Regions from separate parts of the Homo sapiens genome. Here region 2 is linked to region 1. Evidence: fine-mapped expression QTL. Tissue or cell type: tibial nerve. Region 1 holds a variant in brackets; the other region holds the start of a gene. All regions are shown on one strand. Distances are from middle to middle.

Evidence for each region. PIP is the estimated chance that this variant, and not a neighbour inherited with it, causes the effect.
Region 2: GGA3 starts here. The variant in region 1 is fine-mapped to the expression of GGA3 in tibial nerve (GTEx, PIP 0.97).

What each region holds. Positions count from the first base shown.
Region 1 is chr17:74,396,366-74,399,118 of GRCh38, forward strand. No RefSeq gene overlaps it. Among named protein-coding and RNA genes, the nearest start is that of GPR142, 30 kb to the left of the region's middle. The variant A/G (reference allele first, on the strand shown) is at 1,183.
Region 2 is chr17:75,260,145-75,262,771 of GRCh38, forward strand. It overlaps GGA3 (golgi associated, gamma adaptin ear containing, ARF binding protein 3), which reads right to left and starts at 1,462. Exons shown (of 17, transcript NM_138619.4): 1 at 1,404-1,462. The coding sequence starts at 1,443. MRPS7 (mitochondrial ribosomal protein S7) reads left to right here and starts at 1,735. Exons shown (of 5, transcript NM_015971.4): 1 at 1,735-1,839; 2 at 2,353-2,544. The coding sequence starts at 1,757. RefSeq lists enhancers at 868-967, 1,438-1,847, 1,644-2,521.

The DNA of each region.
Region 1 (2,753 bases):
CTAAAAATACAAAAATTAGCTGGGCATGGTGGCACTTGTCTGTAGTCCCAGCTACTTGGGAGGCTGAGGCAGGAGAATCGCTTGAACCCGGGAGGCGGAGGTTGCAGTGAGCCGAGATCGCGCCACCGCACTCCAGCCTGGCAACAGGGTGAGGCTCTGTCTCAAAAAAAAAAAAAAAAAATGGTGAACCCCTGGCTCGGTAATGGAATAAAATGACACCAGTACTTGAGAGGCAAGCAAGTTCCAGGATAGAACGAGGTGGTGGAGGGAAGCGATCATTCCATTTTACATTCATATTTTGCAAACAGTTTCTCCTTTTCTGTTGCTGCTTTCAATCCAGAGGCAGTCCTTTCTTTTCAGATGAAGAAATGGAGGCTCAGAGAGGGGAGGTGACTTTGTGGAAGTCACACAGCAAGTGGCTGAGCCAAGACTCACAACCAGGTATTTTTGTTTTGTTTTGTTTTGTTTTGTTTTTTGAGATGGAGTTTTGCTCCTGTTGCCCAGGCTGGAGTGCAGTGGCACGATCTCAGCTAACTGCAACCCCCACCTCCCTGGATTCAAGCGATTCTCCTGCCTCAGTCTCCTGAATAGCTAGGATTACAGGCACCCGTCACCACATCTGGCTAATTTTTGTAGTTTTAGTAGCGATGGGGTTTCACCATGTTGGCCAGGCTGATCTCGAACTCCTGACCTCAGGTGACCCACCTGCCTCGGCCTCCCAAAGTGCTGGGATTCCAGGCATGACCACCACACCCAGCCTTGTTTTGTTTTGTTTATGAGACAGGGTTTTCCTTTGTCACCCAGGCTAGAGTGCAGTGGTGCAATCTCAGCTCACTGCAACCTCTGCCGCCAGGGTTCAAGCAATCCTCCTGCCTCAGCCTCCCTAGTAGCTGGGACTACAGGTATGCACCACCACACCCGGCTGATTTTTGTATTTTTAATAGAGACAGGGTTTCACCATGTTGGCCAGGCTAGTCTCGAACTCCTGACCTCAGGTGATCCTTCAGCCTCAGCCTCCCAAAGTGCTGGAATTATAGGCATGAGCCACCAGGCCCGGCTGCATCCAGGTTTTCGGGCTCCCCATCACATGGTTTTTTCTACCTCACTCTATAGCAGACAAGACCTGGGGTCTTGGGTCACTGCTATCCCCATTTCCACCTAGAACATGATCTAGACCACAGT[A/G]CATATGGGCTCAGGAACCAGCTGTCAGAGAATGGCGTCAGATTCTAGCTCAGCTACATCCTACCTGAGTGACTTTTAGGGGAGTTACTTTTTGGACTGTGCTGTGGTCTGTTTGTGCCCCACCTAAATTCATATGTTGAAACTTACTCTCCAATGTGATGGTATTAAGAGGTGGGGCATTTGGGAGGTGATTAGTGCTCTTATAAAAGAGGCTGGAGTGCTGGGTGCGGTGGCTCATGCCTGTAATCCCAGCACTTTGGGAGGCTGTGACGGGTAGATCACCTGAGATTGGGAGTTGGAGACCAGCCTGACCAACATGGAGAAACCCCGTCTCTACTAAAAATACAAAATTAGCCGGGCATGGTGGTGCATGCTGTAATCCCAACTACTCAGGAGGCTGAGGCGGGAGAATCGCTTGAACTCAGGAGGTGGAGGTTGCAGTGAGCCAAGATCGTGCCATTGCACTCCAGCCTGGACAACAAGATGAAATACTGTTTCAAAAAAAAAAAAAAAAAAAAAAAAAGAGGCTGGAGGGAGCTTGTTCACTTTTGCCCTGTGAAGACACAGCAAGAAGGTGCTATCTTTGAAGCAGAGAGTGAGGCCAGGTGCGGTGGCTTATAGCGGTAATCCCAACACTGTGGGAGGCTAAGAGGAGAGGATCACTTGAGCCCAGGAGTTTGAGACCAGCCTAGGCAACATGACAAAACCCTGCCTCTACAAAAAATCCCAAAATTAGCCAGATGTGGTGGCACATGCCTCTATTAGGGAGGCTAGGTTGGAGAATTGCTTGAGCCCCAGGAGGTTGAGGCGGTAGTGAGCCGTGATCACACCACTGCACTCCAGCCTGGGGGACAGAGCGAGACCCTGTCTCAAAAAAAAAAAAAATTTTTTTTTCCTTTTTCTTAATTCACCTCCCCTTCCTTATTTCTATTTACTTTTAAATATTAATATATAGTAAAACTGGCCAGGCACAGTGGTTCACACCTGTAATGCCAGCACTTTGGGAGGCCAAGGAGGGCAGATCATTTGAGGTCAGGAGTTCAAGACCAGCCTGGGCAACATGGTAAAACCCTGTCTCTACTAAAAATACAGAAATTAGCCTAGATGTGATGGTGGGTGCCTGTAATCCCAGCTACTCAGGAGGCTGAGGCAGAAGAATCACTTGAACCTGAGAGATGGAGGTTGCAGTGGGCCAAGATCGCACCACTGCACTCCAGCCTGGGCCCTGGGTGGCAGACAGAGTGAGACACTGTCTCAGAAAATAAAAATATATAAATATAAATAAATAAATAAAATTAATATATAGTAAAGTTGATTTTTGTTGTTGTTGTTGTTTCGATTTGCATAATCACCTTCACAATCAGGATACAGCTAGTTCCATCGCCCCAAGAAACCTCCTCAAGAGTCCCCTTCAGGGAGCCACATTCTTTCCCCACCCCAGCCTCTGCCTAGAAATGGCTAACATGTTCTCTGTAATTTTGTCTTCTTGAGAACGTCATAGAAATGGACTTTTACGTGATATAACCTTTTGACTGGCTCTTTTCTTTAGAATAATGCCTTTGAGGTTCATC
Region 2 (2,627 bases), 860 kb after region 1:
TGTCTCAAAAACAAGTAACAAAAACAAAATGTAACTCTAAATGTAGCCTATTAAACTCAGCTTAGGTCATTTAAATTATTCAATACCCATATTAATACCTTCAAAGCAAACTAATTCCACTCTGGTTATAGCAAGTTGGGCATTTCTGGGCAAGTGGTTTGACTGGAGTCAGGATGTCCTCTTTTTGTGAAATTATGGCAGTAGTGCCTGCTTTGCTAGAATACTTGGTAAACTAATTTAATGAATATCTGTAAAGTACTTTGAGCTCCTTGGAGAACACTTCCATATATAAAGAAGCCTTATGACCTGCCTGCAACTGCAGATTTTGCAAACGTGATCTTACTTTTTCTCTCTTTTGGGATATGCTCCCCTTTAAACTGAAGCTCAACCTCCTGAAGGGGGTTTCTTACTAGGAAAAATCAGACAATTTGAGGAAATAGCTATCACCTCCAAGATCCCGGAAGCAGTACTAAATAAGAGACCTCAGAACAAGGCAATACTAGGTATCTCACCTATCCCATTACCAGTCCAATTTCTCTCTCCACTTAAAGGAGGCTTCCAGGTCTAGCCTACAGGAAAGTTCACTTATTAACCCTCAGGCAGAGTACTACCTGCTAACCAGGTTAACACACATTTCCTTCGTAGCACTGTAATTCACAGTGCAATGACAGCAATACGCTTCTATAACTACAGCTTCAGACTGTGCTCCTCAGCCTTACTCAGAATAGGCTATCAACACTGACTCGTTAGGATATTCAAGGGGGTATATGTATGTGTGTGGGGGGGGAATTCCCGACACCGATTTCACCATGCTTCTGTGGTCACTGCAGGAAAAAGGTAGAGCTCTCTGTTCTCTATCATCGCTCTCTTTGGAATATTATTCTCACTTCAAGCATTCTGCCTGAGCGAAGCCGTCACTTCTCCAACACATGGTCACAATTCTGAAGCTGCCAGGCGACTGAACGCAGTCGGCAGCACCCACCACTACCGGAGACTCAGCCCCAATCCGAAGCTTCTCCCTTAGTCAGGGATTGGGGCGCTGGGTTCCTGGTGTCACCGCCGGGCGGCGACCCCACCACAATCTCCCCAAAGCGCCGAAGCATGTCAGCCCGAAGATCTTGGCTGTCGCCTTTCCCCGAGCCTGCGGTGCCCGACAGGAGCCCGAGTTCACGCCGCCGCGCGCCAGAGCAAGAGGACGCGCCGCAGCGAGGGAAGCGGGGGCCGGACTGGGGCCCGGCGCCCTGATAGGGAAGGGGCGTGATCGCAGGCTGCTCGCGGCGAGGGCGAGACCGGGCGTGGGCTGCCAAGAGGCGACGCCGTGGAGCCCGGGGAGGGGACGTGGGGGTGAAGACAGGGGCAGCCCAGCGGCTCGAGGGCAGGCAGAAACGGCCGCGGCTACTCACTGAGCCAGGACTCCAGGCTTTCCCCTTCCGCCTCCGCCATATTGCAGCCGCCCGGCCCCGCGGCTTCAAAACTCGCGAGAGTCTGCACGAGCTGAGACGGGGCGGGGCCTGCATGGGGTCCTGAGAGGAGTGAGTGCCGTCACCGAGGGCCGCGCCAGACTGCGACGGATACAGGGAGGGCAAGGGTTTCCTTTTGGCGCTCCCCTTTGGACCCCGGAGTGAAAAACTCTAACGTCCAGATCAGTGGAGAGAAACGCAGATTTAGGACCCTGAGGAGTCTTTTTCACCCGTTTCCCGTCACTCGCTCAGGCGCGCCGAGGGCAGTCCTTGTGGGGTCCTCGTGGCCAGCCAAGATGGCTGCCCCCGCAGTGAAGGTTGCCCGAGGATGGTCGGGCCTGGCGTTGGGCGTGCGGCGGGCTGTCTTGCAGCTTCCAGGGTGAGAGGGTGGCGAGCAGCGGCGGGGGGGCGCTGCGAGGAAGGAAGGGGGCCACAGGCAGGCCGCGTGGGCCCCTAGAGAGAGCATTGCCCTGGGGGCCGGAGTATCTGGATTCAAGCTTCTAAGTTAGCTGCGTGACCCTGCGCCAATCCGAAGGTTTAGTGACTACCTCTCGCCTAAGGAGTCTGGCTGATCTAGGGTTCTAACGCGGAGCTGAAAGTGCGGTTCAGCTAAAGAGCTCAGATCTGGGATCGCCTGTGAATTGGGATGGGTGTGTAGGCGCCAAGCCCATCCTTACCGTTAGCACTTGACCAGGAGGAGACTTTACCCGCCTGCTTGGGGAATGTCCTCCTACTTGGGACAAGGGCCTGAATTGTTGTGGCTCAGGTTTAGCTCGCGGTCTCCGCGCCGCTCCCCCTCGTCGGCGCGTTGGCAGTCATGCCTATTGTTAAGTCAAACCTACTCGCTTGTGGAGTCAGCTTTTGCCTGCCTCCTCCTTTCCCCCCCTCCCAGGCTAACTCAGGTGAGATGGAGCCGCTATAGTCCTGAATTCAAGGATCCCTTGATTGACAAGGAATATTATCGCAAGCCAGTGGAGGAGCTAACTGAGGAGGAGAAATATGTTCGGGAGCTCAAGAAGACTCAGCTCATCAAAGCTGCTCCAGCAGGGAAAACAAGTTCTGTGTTTGAAGACCCAGTCATCAGGTTAGATGGAAACAAACACTTGTTACATGGACTGGGACTATCCCAGGGAGGGTTTCTGGTGAGGATTCTGTGATACAGCCTTG